Regions from separate parts of the Homo sapiens genome. Here region 2 is linked to region 1. Evidence: fine-mapped expression QTL. A gene starts in region 1. The other region holds a variant in brackets. All regions are shown on one strand. Distances are between the middles of the regions.

Region 1 (15,563 bases):
AGCACGTGGACTAAGCGGGCTGGGTGCACGGCTGCACCTGTGGCTCTGAGCCCACAGGACCCTGACACTGAGCAAACAGGATGGTAGAATACACTGTTTATAGCTGGGCGTGATGGCACATGCCTGTAATCCCAGCACTTTGGGAGGCCGAGGCAGGCAGATCACCTGAGGTCAGGAGTTCGAGACCAGCTTGGCCAACATGGTGAAACCCTGTCTCTACTAAAAATACAAAAATTAGCCGGGTGTGGTGGTGCACACCTGTAATCCCAGCTACTCGGGAAGCTGAGACAGGAGAATTGCTTTAACACAGGAGGCAGAGGTTGCAGTGAGCCAAGATTGTGCCACTGCACTCCAGCCTGGGGGACAAAGCAAGACTGTCTCCAAAAAAAAAAAAGAACACACTGTTTATAACATTGAGCATGTGCGGAAGGAAATGTGAAGACATGTCAGCCCAACTTCCCTCATGGGTTCCTTTCCTGTAAATTCGCTGCAGGCCCCATGAGCTCTAGGAGCGAAGGGGCCCAAGGGGCCTGAGACGTGCCTGGCAATGGGCAGTGTCTATGTTCCATTACTTCTACCCAAGGAGCAGCCACAAGTCCCTGGAGGGGGTGCCAGAATTGACTCCTGAACTGCAACTGCTCTCACCTCCTTAGGCCAGGCTAGGGAAGGAAGAGCTCTTTAAAATAAAGTAACGTGCCATGGAGGCCCTTTTCAGAGGGGACTGAAAGTCATCTCTCCTGTTGCCCTGTGCACACACCAGTCATGTCCTTACCCAGGAAGAGTCTTGCCACCTTTCAGCTGAGAAAAGCCATCAAACACCGTCCTTTCTGCAGTCCTTCTTGAGTCAGCTCTTGCCCCACCTGCCCTCAGAGTTCCTCCAGGTCTGAGCTCGGAGGCCAATGATGGGAAAGGTAAAAGCCTCCCAAGCCCTCAGGTGTGGCTTTAAATTTTATCAAGCGGGGGCGTGCCTGTGGGAGTGGAGGAGGTGCAGTACATCCCTCAGTCCACCAGCCCCTAGTGCCCTGAGGAGCTGGGGACTAGACTCCAGAGAAAACCCAGTACAAAGCACAGACCAGCAGTGGGTCCTGCTTCTTCCTCCCCACAAAGCCCTGGGACCAAATCCGCTTCCATCCCCACCCACACCCTCCGGGTCCAGACTGTCCTTGCAGTCACTCAACCTACAAGTCTACTATGCAAAGGGTAAAGTGTTGCCCAAATGCAGGCACTGGGAGCTGGAGGTGCTGCATGGGCGGGTTCCATGTTCATTCACTGCTTACCCACTCCCTGCTGTGAACCCTGAGGCCCAAATCCCCAAACAACCTGCAGGTCTCATCTTTGGCCTCTCAGGTGCTACCTCCTCCTCCAGGAAAAAGTGCGGACCTAGAACCCAGCCTACCCCAACACCCTGAGACACCGTGATGGCACGAGCCCCTCAGCTCAGGCCAGAGCCACATTTCAGTTCCACACTTAGAGCCTGGAGAAACACAAGCCCTGCCTCAGGAGCTATGAGACCTTCCCATTGGGCCTCAGCTTCCTCTCACCTGTAACGGGGGTTGGCTTGGAGCTGATGCATCAATCCCTGACTCAGACGTAGTGAGAAGCAAAGAAAGAATGGTAGTGATGACAGAATACCCTGCCTCCGCTTATTGAGGACCTACTCCTTAAAGGCTCACAGACTTGGCTAGGCATGGCAGCTCATGCCTGTAATCCCAACACTTTGGGAGGCCAAGGGGGGCAGATCATTAGAGATAACGAATTCAAGACGAGCCTGGCCAACATGGTGAAACTCCATCCTACTAAAAATACAAAATTAGCCGGCCATGGTGGCGCATACCTGTAATCCCAGCAACTTGGAAGGCTGAGGCAGGAGAATTGCTTGAACCCAGGAGGTAGAGGTTGCAGTGAGCTGAGATAGGACCACTGCACTACAACCTGGGCAACAAGAGTGAAACTCCGTCTCAAAAAAAAAAAAAAAAAAAAAGTCCAGGTCCTCACTCCTTTCCCCTATGTAGTAATAGCAGCCACCCCCCTAAGTCAGGACCACACAGCCCTAATAACACAGACTGGCTCAGCCTCCCCGCCTCCAGAAGAGTCTCAAAGGAGGGGTGGCCATAGCCCTCAGGACTGAGTGTGCATTATAGACAGCACAGCCCCACCAGGACCTACATCACAATCAAAGCCATGAGTTACCACGACTTGGTCTGGTCAGAAACATGGCCTTCCCCTGCCAGGACTCACAGTGTGGCCAGAAATACACACACCCTTCCCCCAGGACTCATATCATGATCAAAGCCATGGCTCCAGGCTGCTGCAGCAGGATGAGCACAAAGAACTCTCCCCTTGCTTATCATACATAAGCAGAGGCAGGATCACAGGGAGACCCAGGCATGTCACTCAATCTCCTGATCTCCATTTCACTGTCTGTTAAACTAGATGTTCTCTGAGGTGCTGGACAAGCTGCAAATTCATTACAATGTTTCAGTTACTCCTAAAACAAATCTTTCTTTTCCTGGTAATAAAAAAGTTGCAGGCCAGGACCCACGCCTGTAATCTCAACACTTCGGAAGGCCGAGGCCAGAGGATCCACTTGAAGCCATGAGTTGGAGACCAGCCCAGACAACATAGCAAGACCCTGTCTCTACAAAAAAAAAGAAAAAAGAAAAAAAAAAGCTGGGTGTGGTGGCGCACCTATAATCCCAGCTAATCGGGAGGTTGAGGTGGGAGGATTGCTTGAGCCCAGAAGGTCGTGGCTGCAGTGAACTATGATCGCGCCACTGCACTTGCTCCAGCTTGGGCCACTGAGCGAGACTCATCTCTTAAAAAAAAAAAAAACTGCCAGCTCATTTAAGGACAGGCAGAAACTCAAGGAAGCGGTTTAAACACCTGGGACCCTAGGAGAGGTGAGCCCCTTAACAATTCCATGAATTTCAGCATTCTCCTAGCTGTTTCACTCTCCAGTTTTACTGTACACCCATGACCCCAGGTGGATACTTACATGTCCCGGGACACAGACACAGGCCCACACGGCATACTTTTCTGTCTCTATCCTGAGCACATCTCTGCTGAAGTTCCTGCCCAAGCTCAGCTTTAAGGCCAAGAGGCACCCTTCCTCCTGTTGGAAAACTAGCCCACCTTTGAAAGTTCTGGGCTCAGAGAGGCCAAGTAATTCACCTAGGGCCACACAGCTCAGTTCCAGTCCAACAACCCGGCCCACACTCCTTGGCCAGGAGAGAGGGAAGGGCCTGGGGTGCCCACAGGGTCCTCCCCAGACTGGGGGCGATGGGGATTGGAGAGGGAAGCGAGGGGGCCAGAGCCCTCCCCGAGGTGATGGTGGCCAGACCTAGCCACCGCCAAGCCGATATGCCCCCACACACCTGTCCCCGCCCCCTGCTCTGCCACACCTGTCTCTGGCCCACCACTGTCACGACCGCCTCACCTGTCCCCAGCAGCCTCCCCAGTCACGGCAACCTCACCTGTCCCCGGTTCCCCATCTGTCTCCCGCCCCTTCTCCATGCGAGACCCCCGCCCAGGCCGCCCTACCCACCCATCCCGGTGCACCTCCCACCTCCTCCCAGAGGACCCCGCCTCACCACCGCGCTGGCAAGCGTGCAGAGCGGGCCGCCCATTGCTGTATGGCATCCAGATCTTCTTCAGGGGGTTCTGTGTCAATTCCCGTGGGGACGCCATCCCGGGGCCGGGATGAGTCGGACTGCGCCGCTTCCAACCCAGCAGCCGGGCCACCTCGGGCCACCCGAGGTCCCGCCCCTTGGGCCCCGCCCCTCCTCAAGCCGCGACAGCCCATGTCTATCTTCCCGCAGGTCCCGCCCCAGAGTGAGTAGGCTCCGCCCCAGCTGAAAGGGGCCCGGCCTCCGACCACGCATGCCCAACTCACCTACCCGCCCGTTTTGGAACAAGTGGGCCCAGTTCTTCAGGCCAGGATCGAGAATGCGCATGCTCAACTCCGGATTGTACTGGTCCCGCCCCAGTTCAAGGCCCGGATTGTGCAGGCCCGCCCCGGATGCGCAAACTCAGCTCTCCCAACCTGCCCGCGCTGATTTGCATAGGCCCCACCTACGGGCTCCGCCCTGGCGCTGCATCCCTGAGCAGCGGCACGCGTGAATTCTGCTACCTCCTTGCTAGGGAGCCCAGGGCCCCCAGGAGGGAGGGGTTTTCATGCAGTGGGACGAGGCCTACGTGACCCGCACGGCCAGGTTGGTCAGAGCCGACAGGGGCCAGTAGGCCTGCAGTCCCAGCCGTCAACTCCGCTGCGCCCTCCTGCCCCTCCTCGGGGTCCCCCTTGACTGCTCCGAGCCCCGGGACTCTTCCGCCGTCCATAGGAGCATGCTCAACCACGCTGGAAAAGCTCTTTTACCTCATGGATAGAGACTCAAAACACATTTCAATATTGTTCCTCTTTCTTTGCTTTGGCTGCTGGGAGCAAATGCGTGGGACTTTTTTTTTTTGAGACGGAGTTTCGCTCCTGTTGCCCAGGCTGGAGTGCAATGGCGCTATCTTGGCTCACTGCAACCTCCGCCTCCCGGGTTCAAGGGATGCTCCTGCCTCGGGTTCCCAAGTAGCTGGGATTACAGGCGCCCACCACCACGCCCTGCTAATTTTTGTATTTTTAGTAGAGGCGGGATTTCACCACGTTGGCCGGGCTGGTCTCGAACTCCTGACCTCAGGTGATACGCCCTCCTCAGCCTTCCAAAGTGCTGGGATTACAGGCGTGAGCCACCGCGCCCGGCCGTGCGTGGCACTTAGTAACCAAGTACTTTGGGTACTCACTAAGCCCTGGGAGTATCTTAATCGTCTTTCCAGAATTTCATTTTTTACAATTTTTTTTTGATTTTTAGTATTTTGGTTTTTTTAACTAAAGTTTTACATATTTTTTGAAAATAATATGTTAATAACATTTTCTCTTCAGGAAAATGGGATGTGCACATTGTCTATCTTACAGTATTACAGTATAAATTAAGTATGTCAATCTCTAAGAAATTCATTTTAAAATACGTTATGGTTGCCTTTTACTATATTTGTATCTCCCTCTTGTCTTTGAAAATGCACTGGGGACAAGGAACAAGGGAGAGATCCAGAAGTTCCTAAACCCCTGGCTCACTTTCTTGTTTGGCCCCCACCGGACTCCTGCAGTTTCCCGCCTCCTCGGGATCCCCAGCCCCGCCTCTCCAAGCTTTGTACACTCTCTGCCCCAGCCCCCACCAACACGGCTTCAACCTGAGCCACACTGCCCTCTAGCGATGTCATCCACAACACCCCTGGCAGGTGCCCTGCATCCTCAGGTTCTCTCTGCCCAGTGTGTACCCAGCCAGGAGCCAGGTGTTGAGGGCATGGGACTGGCAACAAGACTGGCCTCGTGGGCTATAGGTGTAGCACCCCCTCCCATGCCCTCCCTGCCACAGCCCTGCCTTGGATCAGTCCAAGTCCACCCAGCTCTTTAAAGCTTGGCAAGGACCCTTAAGATGACTGACACAGATGTCTTGCCCACTTCATAGGAACTGAAGATTCCAAAGGTCCACATGCTGGAAGCCCATCTGGACCCTCCCCCAAACCAGCTCTAGCTGCTTGCCCTGGGAACACCCTGCCCCAGGCAGAGTCAACAACTTCCTCCTTCCTCATCCTCCTTTTGCAGTATCTACCCGCTTATTCCTCCACCCCAGTCCCAGCAGATCTGAGCACATCCATGGGCGGCTCCTGATGAGCTGGGTGCCCCTCGTGACCTGCTCCCTACTTCTCCAAAGCCACTCATTCTGTTCGTGACACAGCCAGCCCTCTTGTCTTCTGGCCACTGCCAAGGCCATCTTGGGGCCACCGTGGCCTCTGAGACCTCATTACCACATGCCCACACCCTGTCTAACCCGCAGCACTCATTGCAAAAGCTATCTCCTCTGATATCTACAGACACCCAGCACCTCCTCTGGCCTGTCCATTCTCTTCCCAGACCTCCTGGGATGCTAATCAAGGGCTGGGGGTAGAGGACAGCTGGCCTGGGCAGGGGGCCAGGGCTATCTCTGGGAAGGCATCCTCACACCCAGACAGGATGAGCCTGGTTCCCAGGAAATGCAACAGCTCTGCACCTTCCTCTCTTCCCCAGAAAGTCTACCCGTGGCTGACCCAGGCACCCTCCTTCAAGGCCCTATGTCCAGCTGGAAGGCCACAGGTCAACATCAGGAGATGCCTGGGGTTCCTCCCCAAGGCCACCGTCCACATCTGCTCTGAGGATATTCTCCATCTCCCCTCCCATGGCCCTGTTTGTCAGGTGGGAAACTGAGGGTCAGGAAGAGGGAGAAGGGTCCAAGATCACAAAGCGAGTCCACAGTGCAGCATGGACTCAGCTCAACTCCCAGCCTTCCAGACCTTGCCTGCCACACTACAGTGGAATCGCACAGTCCACCTTCACATGTGTGCTCCCACTCCCCTGTGTCCTCTCCATGGAGATGCTGTCCCAGCGTCTGCTCTCTCAGCATCAGCGGATGCCCGGTAGAATCTCTGGCCCTCATGGCTTTTTCCTCCTCAGTATATCCGAAAGTGAGCCAGCTGTTCTGTCCCAGGCGTGGGAAGTATGCTGGGATGTCTGTACACACGTGTGAACATGTTCTGCTCAGCCTCTGCCCACCATGAACCTGGCTGGCCTGACCCTGGTTGGCTCCCAGGGTGCCCTCTGCACTGACCACTGGACTTCCTCCCAGTGTCCCAGCCTAGAAGCCATGTGGTGGCCAGTTCTCAAAGCTCAAACTCTTCCCAGTCCCTGTATCTACTGGCCAGTCCTGACAGAACTGCCAAACCATCCCACCACACACACACACACACACACACACACACACACACACACACACACACACACAGTCTCGCTCCTGTTACCCAGCCTGGAGCACATAGTGCAATCATGGCTCACTGCAGCCTTGAACTCCTGGCCTCAAGCGATCCTCCCGCCTCAACCTCCCAAAGCCCTGGGTTTATAGCCATTAGCCACCACATCTGGCCCACAAACCACCCTTTGCAGCATAAAGACCCAGGGGTTTCAGTGCATGCCACACAGGCCCACACACTGATGCACACAGAGACACTGGCACAGCTGCACATGCACACACAGACGCACACACACTCACAAGTCCTGCACCCCAGCATGTGCAGAGACAGGCAGGCTGCAGTGGGGCCTGCTGCTCTCTGCTGCCTCCCTTCCCACATATATCTCTCCACCCCCAGCCCTGCTGTCCACTGGGAGGTTCAGGAGTTTCCAGGAATTCCAGCTTCCTCTGGCCATTTCCAGCAAAGGATTGTCCCCTGTGTCTCCCTGGGCCCAGGGCTCACAAGGAGTGTGAAGTTCTGACTTCAGGTTATAGAACCATGTCACCAAGCAGCCTGGGAACCCTGATCTGCACTTCCTCCTTCCAGCCTGCCACAGGGCGTACAGTAGGTGCTTAGGGATTCAGGACCAGCAAGGGCACACAGAAAGGGTTCAGAGAGGTTCATGACCAAACTGAGTACACAGCAGGTGTTCAGAGAAGCTCAGGACTGGCACAGGGCACACAGCAGACACCCTAGAAGTGCTGGTTTAAGGGCTAAAGCCACATCATGTGAAACCCATCCTAAATGAGCCTCTAGACTTCCCCAAACTGGTGTGACCCCAAGAGGAAACCTGGACAAACATGATCCCTTGGAGGCCAGCAAAGAGCAGAGCAGGAGGGCCTGGGCAGCGCCAGCTGGCGGTCCCTCCCCCTGGGCTGGAGGAAGACACTATTTATAGTTCCCCCTTGGCCCAGCCCCCTCTCCCTTGCAGGGCGACAGTTTTCCCCCTCCTTCGGGCCACTGACAGATGAATGGCCCTCAGAGCACCCCTAAACCAGGAGAGACCCCCCAACACTCTCGCACCCCTCCAGCACCACCCTGACTTCATCCAGGTCTTTCCCTAACCCTCCACCCTCCCCACGCTGTCCCGTGCCTACCCCGCCTGCTGCTCCCCGGCCCCAGGTCGGTCAGGGAGCTGCCTCCTAACGAGCCTCTGTCCATCCTGCAACCAAACTGGCCAGGGCCACTGCCCCCTGCAGCTCCAGAGTGGGGTAACCCCGCCTAGCACTCTGAAGAGAGAGAAGCGACTCCTGCGGCTCCTGCAGCCCCGCCTCCCCAGCCCACTGTAGGCCCGCCCCCACAGGGCTGCTTACAACTGTGAGGGCAGCGCCAGTGCCCCCACTCCAGTCAGCCGGCCACGCTGTGGCCAGTACAGTCTCCCTCTCCCGCCAGAGCTGCCCATGCCACCCAGCGTCTGCCTTCATGTCCACCTAGAGTTGTCTGCACAGCCCAGAGTGCCTGCCCCCTCTGCGGGCAAGCCCGTCCACACTGCCTGGAAAGTCAGTTCTGTCTCTGGCCCAGCAATGGAGTTGGGCTGTGAAATCAGGCAAAACCTAGTCCTTCCAAACCAAGGGACCAGGTCAGTTAACCGGGGAGCTAGGGAGGAAGGCAGAGAAGCCAGGTATGACTCACCCACCATGTGTCGCGGCCTGGGTGCACACCACTGGGATTCTCGCACATCCCATCCTTCAGTCGCTTTGTGTTTATTGAGCACCTCCTGCTGCAGGACCTCCATGTCTGCTACATACACAATGCTCACAGGCTTGCTGGTCCCATCCTTCAGTCGCTTTGTGTTTATTGAGCACCTCCTGCTGCAGGACCTCCATGTCTGCTATATACACAATGCTCACAGGCTTGCTGGTGTCGCTTTGCTTTACAGATAAGGAAACCGAGGCTCGGAAAGGTGAACACCTTTGCCCAGGACAGTCCGTGCGTGAAGTGGGACAGAGTTTGGTTGGAGCTCCGGCAGCCTGAGCCCTGTCTCCTGTGAGCCCTGCATGTCCCTGGGTCGAGGCTGGGGATGCAGGGGTACGTGGGGAGGACAGGGCCTGGCCAGGAGTTGTTCTTGCTTCATGCAGGTTTGGGGGACAAGCACCCACTCCTCTCAGACCCCTCACGTACCCTTACCCTGCTCACACACACTCACAGCTGTCAGAGACTCAGCCACACACGCACATATGCGCCCATAAGACAAGGCTGCCATGGTCACAGGCTTCCTGTGTTCGGGCCTTTGTGCCTGGAGACACCCCTCACAGCCCCGTCCATCTGGGGCAGGTGCTGCCTCATGGGGCACAGAGCAAGCAAGTGACCCTCAGCCAGCATTTCTCTGTGTGGTGGCCTATGGGATGACAGACCTGTGGGCCTCAGAGGGACTGGTCGGAGGCAGTGTTGAGCTCTCGTGTTGAGGCTCCTGAAAGTAACATGATGATGACTGCATGTGGCGGTGTCCAGGTGTTCTGTGACTATGGGGCACCCAGACATAGCAAGACTCGCCACAGCAGTGACCTTACGTGGCAGCATCCAAGCTGTCCGGACATATATTAGGTCTGTGGGGCACACAGGCATGGCAAGACTCCATGTGGCAGTGACCCAACTTAGCAATGTCCAATGTCCAGGCTGTCCAGACACACTGTGACTCTGTGGGGCACTCAGATCTGATATGACCTGCATGACAGTGGCTCCATGTGGCAGTGTCCAGACACTGTATGCCCAGATGTGGCAGCGTCCAGACACTGTATGCCCAGATGTGGCAGCATCCGTCCAGCTGTGTGGCTGCCCTCCAGGTCTTCCCATCCAGGGTGGCCCTATCACTGTGACCCCCTCTCTCAGGCTCAGCAGTGGCCGACACGGGCCAGGATGCGGGCGTTGGTGGTGGCCTGCTCCCTGGCAGCCCTGGCCCGGGCTTGCTCCAGTAAGATCTGCAAGAGGCCGATGGGGACATCCAGCGATAGGACAATGCGCGAGCCAGGGTGGCGGGTGGGGCTGCAGTGGCTCTGGGCAGCCCACGGCCATGTGGGAGCAGCTGAGGGGCTCTCTGAGGCCGCAGGTCGGGGAGTGGTCTGGGGAGAATTCTGAGGGCGGAGCTGGAAGGTTGGGATAGGGGTCACTGGGACAACCAGGACTCTGCCCAACATCAGGACCATCAGCAACAGCAGAGCACACCTGGTCATCGTGAGGTCAGGCTGCAAGGAGAAAATGGGCTCAGGGCAGGGGCTCTGGTCAACTGGGGTCCATGGACAGAGACAGATGGCAAGGGCAGAGTGACAGAGCGGGGGATGGAGAGAGAGGAAGACACCGAGAAAGGGGTTAGAGAGGCCAGGCCAGGCCAGAGACAGAGAAGGGGAGACAAGAGGAGAGCCAGAATGAGACAAAGAGGCAGAAAGCAAGACAGAAAAAAAGAAACAAAGAAATCCAGAGACAGAGGGACAGCAAGAGAGGGAGATGAAGGAGATGGAGGCAGAGCAAAATGGAGACTAGAAGAAAAAGACAGACAGAAACCATCCCAGAGACAGACAGCATGATGGAAAGAAAGATTCAGACAGAAACACAGAGTCCACAGGAGGGCAGGCGGTTCTCAGCAGGAGAGCTTGCAGCTGATCCAGGAAACAGAAGGGCAGGAATCGGATCTCAGAGGCAGAAAAGCAGCCAGAGATCCCAGAGTCCCCTGGGTCCAAGCCCTCCATAAAGCCAAACCCCACATCCACTCAACCTCCAAGACCCTTCCCATCCCGACCCAACCCAGTCCTACCGCCACCAGCTGCTTCTGGGGTAAGGCAGCCTGCTGTGGCTGCCTGGGGCTGGGGCCAGGCACTACTGTCCTGTGGTCTGACCCTCTACCCCGCTTCAGGGCCCATTTATCTCCCTCAGCCCCCTGGGGTGGGAGCTGGTACATGCTTCCTGGCATGAGGCAGCCCCCCACCTATGACTCATCCCTCCCGGGGGTGTCCTTAGCCCCCACCCTATCTACTCTTTTCCGGGGACAAGTTGGGGACTGAGAATCACAAGACAGTGACCAGGACTGGGCAGAGGGACTCTGTACCCATGCAGAATAATACCAACCCCCCAAGGAAAACCTTCCCCCTTGAAACCCCCCATCTTCCCAAACAGTCACAACAGGAGCCTTTTAAAACAGCAGCTTTAATGCCCCCCAGAATCAGCACCATGTCATCACAGGCTTGGGTCAAGGGGCGGGTCAGACGCCAGTCACATCCGCTCACTGCCCACAGCCACCCCCCCACAGTGAGTCATCTGCCAGGGTGGCAGGAGCCACAATGGGGGTTTGTCCACAGGGGGGAAGGCTAGACCCACGGGACCAAGTCACTGAAATAACGGACGTGCACACGCACGCTCACGTGCACACAAGCCTCTAGCACCAAGGGGAGGGACAGTGGGGTTCTGCTGAGACCCCGACTCCTCCAGGGGATGCTGAATCTCAGCTCATTATCTGGGCCTCAGTCCTGGGCAGTACCTGGTGAGGACAGGTTGGAAACGGTCGTCAGCCATCTGACCTTCCCCGGAGACGCTCAGGCAGAGGCACCGCCAAGGGGAGGGAGCGGAGGCTACAACAGGAAGTGGGGGCTCTGACCTCAGAGGGGTCCATACTTAGGTCTTTAAAGGAGGGAACATGGAAGGGGACCCTACTGGGGGCTCCACGGCTGGGGCTCTATATTCAGCTCTTTGGTCTGGGCGTCTGCCCCAGGTCCCCTACTGCGAGGGAGCGTCTCCTCCAGGACCCTGACCTGGAACCCTGGCCCAAGGACTCCTCCCCCAGAACCCGATCCAGGCAGGCTCAGTGCCCAGTTCCCCACGGTGGGGGCTCAGCCCATACCTGTCCCCTGGCTCTGGACCACCCGGGGTGGGCAGCGGCGCTCGCAGGCCTCACGGGTCCCAAAACGGTTGGCATTCCCTCCACAGCCACCATAGACAAAAGGGTGACAGGCCTCTGTGCTGCCTGTCACAGCCCGATGGTACCAGCGCAGGGTGTAGGCAGTGCAGGAGCCCTCATCCAGTGGCAGGGAACAGGGGTCTGGGCCAATGGGGTCAAGTCAGCAGGGTTTGTGGGAATCAGAGAGGGTTGAAAGGTCAGGGGGAGGTCAGCAGGGCTCAGCCCTGCCTGCCCCTCCCCAGACCCCGCTGGCAGCCCCCCATTCTCACCATCACTATCCCAAGGAGCTTCAGGGTCCTGGTACTCCTCCACAGAATACTCGGAGTATTCAGAGTACTCATCATCCTCAGGGGGTACCCGCTCTGCAGGTAGGGCAGGGTGTGCTGGGAGCAGTGGCTGCTGGCCCCGGGGCAAGGTGGGCAGCACTGATTTCCACTGTGTGCACACAGTGCCCATGCGTGTGCCCTGCATGCAGACCCTACGTGCTTGGCGTGTGCCCTGCATTCATGGACACCCATGTGCGTGTCTCGGCCCCACCCATAGCTGCCCCACGGGTTCAGCTGTCCTCACCTTCCTCCTCTGCATGAGAGACGCGGAGCACAGGCACAGCATGGAGCTGGGAGCCGGCAGTGTCTGCAGCATAACTAGGGAGGGGTCCTGGAGCCAAGAGCAGGGGCCTCAGGGCCCTGAAGTCACCATGGGCAGCCATCCCAGCCAACCCCCCTGAGAGGACCCCAGTTGATAGGCAGGGCAGGGCCTGGGGTGAAGAAAGTTCTGGGAGTAGAAAACTACTCACGTGATCCAGATGCGATGAACTGGCCCTGGCAGGCTAGAGGGGGCAGAGAGGGATAGAGAGACAATGACAGAGAGAAGGATGGGAAGATGGAGAGACAGACAGAGACACACAGGCAGAGGGGTAGAGATACACAAAGAGATAGCAGGAGAGGGTAACAGGAGAGAGAGGAAGAGAGAGGGTGGGAGGTAGATAGAGAGATGGAAAAAGAGAAGAAGGCAGAGGAGAGGGAAGTTGGGAACAGGCCAACAAAAGGCAAGAGACAGAAGCAGGCCAGACACAGAAACAGGCAGGTGGTGCAGACAGAGACGGGAAGAGACAGCTTCACTCTGATGCCCCTCCCACCGGGTCCAGGTCAGGCCCAAGGGGACCAGCTCTGCTCCCACCATCATCCCACTCCCCACACAGCCAAGCTGGACATCTGAGAGCACTGCATGGCAATCCTCATCTGCCTGTGTGTCTCCCTCCACTGGGGACACATGTCATGTGTCAGTCCTGCAGCACATGTGTCCTTCTGTGTATCCATCCATCCCCCCATCTTCTTGACTGCTTGCCCTGTAAGTTCTAGGGGCCTGCCTGCCCTTGCCTAGGGTGCTGGGGTGGAGTGGGAGACTGCGGGCTGGGCACCACTCACCACAGTGCTGACTCATCTCTTGGCGCACAAAGCCCCGGATGTCATCCTCCTGGGAGCAGAAGACCACAGGGACCATAAAGAACCCATGGCCCACAGGAAGGACATAGGGCACATAATACAGGGACTATGGTGAGACTGCATGGAGCCAGGGCCCAGGGGTCAGGGTGCTGGGTGAGGGAGGTAGGGCCCCAGCCCACCCAGGCCCACCCAGGCCCTCCCAGGCCCATCCAGGCCCACACTCACCGTCAGTGCAGCTTCTCCCTTCTCGCCTCGAGGACCGGCAGGCCCTGGCCGCCCCTATGTGCAACAGATGGGACCAGGCTGTGACCTCTGACCTCAGGGACAACAGAAGTCACCCCGATCTCTGACCCAAGCCTTGGAATCCCTACTCACCTGCTCCCCTCTCTCGCCAGGAGCTCCAGGGACCCCAGGAGCCCCCACCACTCTCTCTCCGGGGGGACCTCGCTCACCCTGTCAGACACAGGGACCAAGTGAGCAGGGTCAGAGGCAGTGGGGATCAGAGTCAGGCAGGTTGGGGGCCACAGCTTCAGAGGTTGGGGCAGGCAGGCTGGAAGATGGTTATGAGGTTGGAAGGGTAGGGAAGGTTCAGGGATCAGGAGTCAGAGCTGGGGCCCCTTACCTTCTGGCCCTGAAGTCCTTCGGGGCCTCTGGGACCAACACTGCCAGGTGGCCCTGGGGGACCAGCAGAGCCATCATTTCCACTGGGGCCTGGGAAGCCCCCAATTCCTGGGGTTCCCTGGGGAGATATAGGACAGAGTCAGTAATCAGAGGCCCCAGAGATGGACCCTCTCCCAAAGTGCACGCTCCCCTCAATTCACCATGACCATGGCTTCAACTCACCCGCTCCCCTTTCTCGCCCTGGTCACCCTTGGGGCCTGGCTGCCCGTCAAAGCCTCGGTCACCCTGGGAACAGAAGAAGCATGAGAGACCTTCTGCCCTGACCTCCCTCAGCTCTGGAACCTCCCTGAACTCCCATGAGCTCCCTGGCCTAATGCCCAAACCTTCTGTAACCCAAGCACCTGTGAGCCAACCAGATGTGATCCCCATGACTCCAACTCCACTATAGCCCCCTGCCCTGATGCACATGCCCCCTCCACCTCCCATGCTTTCATCCTAACTCCACTGTGACCCCAACCCACCTTGACACCTCGAGACCAGCCCCACTTCAGCCCCCAAAGTCCCAACCCTCTACAGCCTTCCTTGTCCCTACACCCCCATGACCCGACCATGAGCTTCCCTGCCCCATCCTGACTCCCTGTCATGTCCACTGTCCACAGACCCTGTACCTTGGGACCGATCAGGCCCTCCTTGCCAGGGGCCCCCGACTGGCCCGGCACACCAGGCTCCCCCTGGAGAAAAAAAGACATGAACTTGGCCCCCGTCCACCCGTGGCCCCCTCATTCTGAGCGTGCCCACACTCACCATCTCTCCTTTGTGTCCTGCCAGCCCGGGGCGGCCTGGGGGACCAGCTTCTCCCTGCAGGCATCAGGCAGTGGGGTGAGCCTTAGGCCCCAGGCCACGTAGCCCCCCAGCCCCCATCCCCTCTGTACCTTGTCTCCCTTCTCTCCATCAAGGCCACAGGCTCCCTTCACTCCCCGTTCACCCTGAGGGAGAAAAGCAGATGAAGAAGTGATTCCCAGACACCTCACTCTGTGACCCCCTTCACCCTGAAACTAACTCTCCAAACAGGCCTCAGCTACTCCAACCTCTGACCCAGTGCCCTAATATCTGACCCCAGGTCCCTCGCCCTTCAACATTAGGCCTTCCTGACCAGAAAAAAACCAATCTTGTTTCTTTCCTACCTTGAGGCCCCGGGGACCCATGAAGCCAACATCTCCTTTTTCTCCTCGGATACCAGGCACTCCATCCTTTCCTGGGGATCCCTAGCAGGGAGAGGGTCCATGTGAGGTCAGAGGAGGTCAGTGAGGGACCAAAGAGAATCGCCCTGGATAGTGGGTAGGGAACACCATGGGGTGGGAGTCACCTCTGGAGGCCAGAGCCACTGGGGCTTGCCATGGGGACAAGGGTCACCATAGGCAGGGGACACCATCATAGGCGGCTACTGTGGAGGTGGGGGACCCTGGGTGACATGAGGACACCATGAGAGCACTGGGTCACTATAAGGTCAAAAGCTACCACACTGGTGGGACCACCATGGTGACGGGGGCCCTCTGGGGACAGGGGGCCCCTGTGGGAGCAGGGGCATCTTACCGGGTCACCAGGGATCCCTGCTGCACCAGGTTGACCCTGTGAGAAACACAGATGGGGGAGCCCTTCAGTGGGACTGTCCCCAACACTGGCCCATCCGCTGCATGTGTGGCCACTCAGATGCTCAGCGGCCAGGGCCCAGGCCACACACAGATCCC
Region 2 (8,000 bases), 27 kb after region 1:
TTGGGAGAACTGAGGCGTCATGGTGAGGATGGGGGTAATCAAAGGGTCACAAGGGCCAGAGTAACTGGCAGGGGTTATGTGGGTTCAAATGGGGTCACCAGGTCTCTGCATCACATGGCACTCATGAGGCTGTCACCTTCATGGCTGTTCCAGGAAGCCCTGGGGGGCCACGGGGTCCTGGGTCCCCCAGTGGTCCACGAGGTCCAGGGGGGCCCTGATGGAGGAGACAAAGTATAAGGTGCAACCCCACAGACCTCACTCTCGCCCCCCTCGTGTTGGTCCCCCCACTACACATCACTTGCCTCCACATACCCTGCACTTACCGATGGTCCAGGGTCCCCTTTCCGCCCAGGAAGCCCAGGTCCTTCACCTCCGATGACTTGTCCGGGAGCCCCCTGTAAGGACAGAGAGCAGTGGGCAGGATTCAGGCTATGGGGGCCTTGAGCTGGAAGAAGCCCCTAGACATGTCCAGCTATTCCTATTCGCGCCTTAGGCCCTGCACAGGGTCTGGTGTGGGGCAGTCCTGCTCCTCCCTGGGACATCCCGGCCGCCTCCCTTCCCCCTTCACCTACCGGCTCCCCCTTTGGGCCTCGAGGTCCTCGCTCTCCCTGAGGACGAAACAGAGCAGAGGGTGGTGCTTGGGCTCAGGCGAATGTCAACGTGGGCACTGCACCACCACCCCAGGCTCCCACCCTGTGGAAGAACCCTGGGAAGACACTTAGAGAGCAAAGAAGGGAAGGCACCTTACCGGGTCCCCACGAGGGCCAGGCAACCCTGGAGAGCCCTGCAAATGGAGGCCAGAGGCAGAACAGTCGGAGCCACCCCACCCACTCAGGCAGCGCCCACCCTGACCTGCAGGACAAGGCTTGCTCACCTTTAGGCCAGGGGCTCCAGGGGTCCCAGGATTCCCGGCGCGGCCAGGGCTGCCTGGACGCCCATCTGCTCCAGGGAAGCCCTGAGGAGGTGAAGAGGTCAGGACAGGAAGGGACCCTCCCCCAAGGCCCCTGGTTTGCTGGAGGGGCCTCACCCCATCAACAAGGGGTCGCCTACCCCACTGACCCCCAAGTGTTATTGGGGGTGGAACAGTGAGGCAGAGAAATGGCCCCTCAGAGCTTCACAGAGCCCAATTCCAGGCACAAGGGCAGCGACAAGGCAGAGGGCTTCCCTGCCTCTGGGACTTGGAGCTGCTGCTCAGGCTCTGCAGCGGGGCTAGAGGCCCCACTGGCCCTTCTATTTCAGAGTGTCCCCCAAAGTCTCTGTGGTGGTTTATAACCTCCAGCTGGGCTTCTAGGAATTCCCGATGATTCTAACTCTGCTTCTTCCTTCTCTCTTGTAAAAACCCCGAGACAGCTTTGAGGAGTGCCTCAGAGAAACCTCGATGGTCTCCACACTCACCCTCTCGCCCTTGGCAGTGGCACTTCCAGGGGGCCCCTGGGGGCCGGGAGCACCGGTCCTGCCCTGAAAGAAGATAGCAGTTAGGTGGGGATAAGCCAGTCAGGGTGCAGGGACAGATGTGGGGGACACTCACCGGGAGGCCAGGGTCGCCAGGAGGCCCAACTTGTCCTCTCAGGCCCTAGGAAGGGTAATCAGTGAGACCTGTGCTGCCAACCTCTCCTGCCCCACTGACACTCAACCCATTCTCTATTCCCCGCCCGCAGGGGCACTCACCATCTCTCCAGGTTCCCCCTTCTGGCCCTGGGGAAAGACATGTCAGATGTGGGTCAGAGTGGCTAGCCCCAGGTGCAGCCTCTGTTCACCTCTCGATGAGGGACTCTTACCTTTGGACAATACACTGGGCAGGGCTCTGGCCGGGGCTGCGGACATAGGGTCTCTTTGAGGTTGAACATTTCTACCAAGAACCCCCAGACCCCTTATATTCTACCACCCAGTCCCCCAGAGGCCTCTTCCAAACCTGAGTAGTGAAGGATGCCTGACACAGGGCTGTGGCCAGACCACTGACTGCCTGGTCCAGGCTTGGCCCATCATCCACGGCGAAGAAGGTCTGGACAGAGTCCATACCCGGCGCCAAGCGACGCAGCTGCTCTGGGTCCGCTCCAGCCATTCCCAACATCACCACATTAAGCCCTAAGGTGGGGTCCAGTGGCTGCATGATAGCCTTTTCAGGGCCACCCCTATTCCCAGACCCCTTCCCCATCAGCCTACTCCTTACCAGAAGCCTGGGCCTCACGGATGGGGCTGAATATGTCACCTCTCAAGGGTTCATCCACTAGCAGAACCATCACCCCTGGTACGTGCTGGCGGCGCCCAGGAGCATCTGGTGCCAACATGTATCTGTGAGCTGTGACCACGGCTGTGCCTGGAAGGAAGGACATGTCAGAACCCTGGGGCACCAAGCTCCCAGTGGATAGCCCCAGGAGTCCATGCCTGCTGCAGTCCTCACCCAGGTTGTTCCCACTTGGGTCCATGTAGGGCATGTCACGGATCCTTTGCAAGATAATGCCAAGGTCATGGGAGCCATTCAGTGGGAACAGTGGGGAGGGCCGATGACTGTAAGACAGCAGGCCAACCTGGGGTGGAAGGAAACACAGAGCCTGAGGAGGATGACAGAGCAGGGATGGGGGTGCACAGAGCCTGGAGAAACACATCAGGGTGTGTGTGACCAAACCCTATCTATTAGGGAGTCAGCAGTGATGGCAGGATAGGGAGCCAGGCAGTAGGTGAGGTCTGGAGCCTGTGAGAGAGCTGGGAGAATGCCTGAACCTATTGGGTGGTCAGGAGATGGTAACTGGTATGGAGCCTGGGTGGGGGGCCTCAGGGAGAGGTAGAATCTGGCTGCCCCAGGGCCAAACCTGAACTGCCTGTGGCCCAAGAGGCCCAAGTGCCAACACCAGACGCTCCAGGACCCTCCTCGTAGCCTCCGCACGGTGAGCATTGTCTTGAGTGGCATGTGGTAGGAACACCACATCCGCCAGGCCACGGGGGCACACTGTAGGAAGGGGAACAAGTTACTGAAGCGGGCAGCCCACCCAGACACACCTTTCTGCCCTTCCCACTACGCCCACTATACCTGGCGTCTGTGTGACAGATGCCTCAGGACCCCGCACACCATCCAGGACAGGCGTCAGGGAGAAGATGTAAGAGACGCCAGGCTCTAGCCCTGTCACCCGCTGGGAGCTTGAGATCCCTGGAAGTGTCTGCGGGGACCCAGGCACTTCTGCAGGAGACAGAACTTGATTAAAAAGCTGTCTCCACAGAGCCCCAACTGCCAGCCCACCCAAATCCTGGCCTCCCCCTCACCCTGGCCAGGGCCTCTGAGTGGCCGCCAGGATAGGATGTAGCTGGATGCCCTGGACACTGGAGTCCAGGCCAAAGTCACCGAGTCGATCGAGGTGTCCACCACACGTAGTTCAATGCTTGGAACACGAGGTGACTCTGAAGGAGGAATGAAAGATCGAGGATCAGAGGCTGAGTCCTGAGAACCCAGAAGGGAGAGATCTGAGATCCTGGGTCCGGTTTGTCTTATTGAAGCATCATGGGAGGTCATGCTGGGGTCACCCAGGGTCAGAGGGTGAGGGGTAGGGGTACAGGAGGAGTCACTCAGAGTCGGGGTGCAGGAAGTCAGGGTGGGTCATCAGCAGGGGAGGAGCACGCCAAGGTGAGGCAGGCTTACCAGTGCGCGCAGTCACCTCTGCAGAGGGCCCTTCTCCAGCTGGCCCTAGGACACTCAGCCTCACGCGGTACTGTGTCGCTGGCTCCAGCCCGTCCAGGTGATAGCTGCTGAGCTCGGGCCCCAGGACCCGGGACTGTTCCTGGCCACCTGGGGCAGGCGTGAGGGTGGGGGCCAAGAGCATGTGGGATAGTGACACCTGGGGGCATTAAAGGGCCTGCCCACTTCACTGGCTCTGTTAACTGGGTTCACCCTCCTGACTGATCTTCCTCATCCTCACTGACCCTGCCCACTTTACGGACCCTGCCAGACTGACCCTCCATGAACTCATTGATCCCACCCACTTCATTGATTGATCTTACCTACTGTCACGGATCCCGCAGACCCCCAGTGACAGACCCCGCCCACCATCACTGTCCTCGCCTACCTTGCGGAGTCTGCCACAGCCCTGCCCCCAATGGTCCCTAACTTCCTCCTGGGGACACCTCTCACCCTCAGGTTGCCAGTGCAGAAGGAAGCCCTGCGCTCTGGGCACCGGCTCCCAGCGCAGCCTCAGCGAGTGCTCCCCGCGCTGCACCACGTGAAGCGTCCCCAGGGCTGGCGGAGCCTCAGGCGCTGGAGAGAAAGCTCAGGAATCAGGGAGGCTCTGCCCCCATGGCCCCTGCACCAATCCCAGGCCCACCCTGGCACACGCACCCCGCCCAGCCTCTCAGACCCCTCTCCCTCCTCTCAGACCCTGCCCCCAAAGGCTCACTACCAATCCTGGTCCTTTCTCCAATCCAGAGCACAAGCCCGGATCCCCAAACCATCCACACCACCCATCC[G/A]AAGCTCTCCAGCGCATGCTCTGCCTACGCGTAGTGACAACAATGGAGACAGGTGTGCCCTCGCGGTCCCCGACAAGTGCAGTCACTCGCACTGAGTAGCTGACTCCACCTTCGAGACCCCGGATCTCTGCAGAGTCTGTGTTTCCTGGGAGTATCTGGTGCCTCATGGGGCCGCCTGGCCAGGTGGGCATACAGCAATGGTTAGGGGTGAGCAGTCCCAGCCAGGAAGGACAGGGGTGGCGTCAGGGAGCCATACCTTCACTCCGGCCCCAGGCCAGTCTGTAAGCTGTGGCTCCAGTGACCCCTACCCAGGTGATCCGTAGAACGTCGCTGGAAGCATTGAGGATCTGCAGCCTCGACACACGACCCACAGGCTCAGGGGCTGGGGACAGAGGCAAGGTAAGGGGTCCTGGTAGAGAACAGAGAGGCAGTGCAGGAATGGTTGACGCAGGGGTGATCTGAAAGTCAGTGTGAGGTTAGTGTGGACAGGTCACTTTAGGCAGCCCTGAGGAGGAGGAGGTCAGTGCCTTGGGGTGGGCAGTGTGGGGCCACCAGGAGGTCACCGTGGGTGGACACTTAATCAGTGTGGGGTGGGTCAGTGTGGACAGGACAGTCACTGAGCAGGGGGGTGGAGGCAGCTGGGCAATCAGGAACACACAGCAGGGCAGGGTAGCTAATGCGGTGTGGCTAGTAGCTGGCCAGGGTCCACTCACCAGTCCTCACAACCACAGAGGCAGGGGGCCCATCCACGCCAGCCACATGGGCCCTCACATGCACCGTATACTCAGTATCTGGCTCCAGTCCATCCAGCTCAGCCACCGTGGCCTCCCCAGAAACCAACTGGGATTTCTCTGGGCCTGGGAACAGGGATGGAGGCAGCTCCAGGGCTAGCAAACTCTGTGCCCCAGAGCCCCACCTGGACCCCCAATAAACCCCCAGCCCCCATTCCACCCTGACCTGCCCCCTCCCAAACCCCAGTCCCCACCGTGGGCTGAGTGCCAGGAAACCCTGTATCCTGTGGCGCCAGGAACCCTGGTCCAGGTAATGGTGACAGATGAGCTGCTGGCCTGAGTCACATGGACCGTCCTCACTGGGCCCAGTGGGTCTAGTGGGGAGAGGCAATGGGGAGTCTGCTGGAACAGGCAGGAAGGAGTGGGGCTATCTGATAGGGGAAGATGATGGGAGTCTAACAGGAGACGGGAATTTGATAGAGGAGATGGTGAATAGGTCCAGTGGAGGAGTGGGGAGGTGGAGGTTTTAGGAAGCAGTGAGCAGGTCTGATGGAGGAGAAAGTGTAAATCTCAGAGGAGATTTGGGTCCAGCAAAAAAGGGATGGGGGTCTGAGGGTTGAAGTGGTGGATATTTGAGGGCAAAGGCTGTGGGAGTCTTAGGAGAGAAGCGGAGGAATCTGAATACGGGGAGGGCTTAAGGGGAGACAGCTGAAACTGAAGAGGAAGCAGCGTCTCTGAGGGAGGAGGGAGTGGGATTCTGAAGGGGGAGGCAGGAGTTCTGGGGAGAAGCAAGGGTCTGCAAGGGAAGGCATGGGGGTCTGAAAGAGCAATGGAGGCAGAGAGCCAAGGGACGGGGGCAGGGCCTGACCCGTTCGAGCCACGATGACTGCAGCAGGGCCCTCCTCTCTGCCTCGCAGTACCGACACAGCCACCTGGTAGGTGGTTCCAGGCTGCAGCCCTGTGATGTCTGTGGCAGTAGAGTCTGGGGGCAGTGTCTGGCTGGACTCCGGACCTGAGGTCAGAGGGAAATGCTGGCATGGCTCCTGCCTGTCCCCTCTGGCACCCATACCCTCATTGGTCCCTTTGGCAGTCCCCCCACACACCCCACACTGACCACTGCCTGTGCTCCAGCTAATCCGAAATCCACTGGCTCCAGGGACGGGTCCCCAGGCCACCCTCACTCGCGTTGCATCTGACACCACAACCCGCAGCCCTGGAACAGCAAGTGGAGTTTCCGGCTCTAGGAGTTACAGACAGAAGTCAGAAGTCAGAACCAGGACCAGAGTGAGGCAGGCAGCTGTCCTCCACAAGCCTCCTGCAGTACTCACCCCGGCGGACAGTGAGGACACTGGCACTGCCCTCACGGGGACCCACTCGAGCAGACACCCGCACAGTGTAGCTAAGCCCAGCCTGAACGTCATCCAAGTCGAATGCTGTCTGACTCCCAGGAAGCACCAGGGTCCGCTCAACCCCTAAGAGAGAAGTCAGGGTAGGTGGGCAGGGGTCAGAAAGAGACAGGGATGTGGGACGATGGCAGTGATGGACAGGGACGCAGAGTGAGAAGGGCCATGGGGGTGGGGATGTGGGGTGGTGGGGACCAGAGAGCTGGGATATGGCTGAAAAAAGTGAGTGCAAGACAAGGACATAGGATGAAAGGGGCCAGTGATGGTCAGGGACACTGGAGGACAGGAGTCTGTGGGATCTTAGCATGTAGGATGACAGGAGTCAGTGGACTGCAGTGAGAACTGATGAGCCATTGACAGACACTGATGTGGGATGGCAGAGGTCAGTGCTGGATGGGGACATGCAATGAGAGGTTGGTGTACAGTGGTCACCACTAGGGTAACAGAAAGACAGGTGATTGAGCTTGTGGCTGTGCAGAGGTGAAAGCCGTGGATGGGGTGTGGGGCAGGGAGGAGATTGGTTGGGGTAGGGTAGGGGCAGACACACCCTGTTGACAGTTCAGGGCTCAGTGCCATCTTGGGAAGCAGATGGATAACGAGACAGGGAGGAGACTATAGGGACCCAGGTGTGGAAGGAGAGGGCTGGAGGTACACTCAGACCCCTCAGGCTGGAACTTCAGTGTGTGTGGTGGGGGTGCTGGCTGCGTCCACCTCACCCTGGGTGCTGCGCACAATGATGCGGTACTGGGTGGCACCAGGGACTGGGCTCCAGGACACTCGCACCCGCTGCCCGGGCAGCTCGGTGGCTTGCAGGTCTGTTACAGGGCTCACAGGCAGCTCTGGTCCTGTTGGAGAGCACAGCATAGAGGCAGCCTGGGGCTCCGACACCTCCCCCACTCACTGGCCCAGCCCACAGAGCCCTCACCAGTGGGAACCACGGTTGCAGGGGTGGCCACCTCGTGGCCCTCCAGCAGAGTGTAGAGTGTGAGGCGGTACTCAGTGCCCGGCTGCAGCCCATCCAACTGGTAGCGGGTCACATCAGAGGGCAGTACCACCTTCTGCGGTGGCTCCAAGCCTGCAAGATAACAGGGTCAGACCAGCAGAGGCCATGCCCTGACCCTTGCCTGTCCATCCCTTCCCCCGCACTGACCAGTCTCACGCCGCCATTCCAACCGGTAGCCACGGGCCTCAGGCACCAAGTTCCAGGAAAGGAGGATGGATGTGGGGCCCAGGATGACCGGGCGCAGGGTCTGCTCAACAGAAGCGTCTGCCCAGGGCACATGGGATGTCAGTGGCCTCCGGGCCTTGCCCTGCCTGCCCGTCCCAGCCTGAAGAAAGTGCCCAGCCTTCTCACCAGTGCGAGCCATCAGGGAAGTGGCGGGCCCCACACTGCGGCCAAATAGGGTGCTCACGG

What was found. PIP is the estimated chance that this variant, and not a neighbour inherited with it, causes the effect.
Region 2: its variant is fine-mapped to the expression of UCN2 in breast (GTEx, PIP 0.94).

The regions. Positions count from the first base shown.
Region 1 is chr3:48,553,091-48,568,653 of GRCh38, forward strand. UCN2 (urocortin 2) reads right to left here and starts at 10,691. Exons shown (of 2, transcript NM_033199.4): 1 at 10,613-10,691; 2 at 8,628-10,046. The coding sequence starts at 10,034. The coding sequence ends at 9,696. COL7A1 (collagen type VII alpha 1 chain) reads right to left here. Exons shown (of 119, transcript NM_000094.4): 105 at 15,409-15,444; 106 at 15,000-15,080; 107 at 14,748-14,801; 108 at 14,620-14,673; 109 at 14,484-14,546; 110 at 14,038-14,100; 111 at 13,817-13,933; 112 at 13,570-13,647; 113 at 13,420-13,473; 114 at 13,177-13,225; 115 at 12,546-12,578; 116 at 12,320-12,406; 117 at 12,019-12,111; 118 at 11,693-11,890; 1 more. The coding sequence ends at 11,316. It overlaps PFKFB4 (6-phosphofructo-2-kinase/fructose-2,6-biphosphatase 4), which reads right to left and starts at 3,713. Exons shown (of 14, transcript NM_004567.4): 1 at 3,591-3,713. The coding sequence starts at 3,687. RefSeq lists enhancers at 4,116-4,205, 4,336-4,425, 6,176-7,117, 7,173-7,312, 15,012-15,563.
Region 2 is chr3:48,584,162-48,592,161 of GRCh38, forward strand. COL7A1 (collagen type VII alpha 1 chain) reads right to left here. Exons shown (of 119, transcript NM_000094.4): 10 at 7,941-8,000; 11 at 7,737-7,853; 12 at 7,512-7,661; 13 at 7,303-7,431; 14 at 6,512-6,655; 15 at 6,298-6,423; 16 at 6,052-6,195; 17 at 5,438-5,557; 18 at 5,166-5,309; 19 at 4,709-4,834; 20 at 4,481-4,627; 21 at 4,121-4,243; 22 at 3,632-3,778; 23 at 3,259-3,393; 14 more. Among named protein-coding and RNA genes, the nearest start is that of COL7A1, 7.2 kb to the right of the region's middle. RefSeq lists enhancers at 4,169-4,872, 4,873-5,574. The variant G/A (reference allele first, on the strand shown) is at 4,453.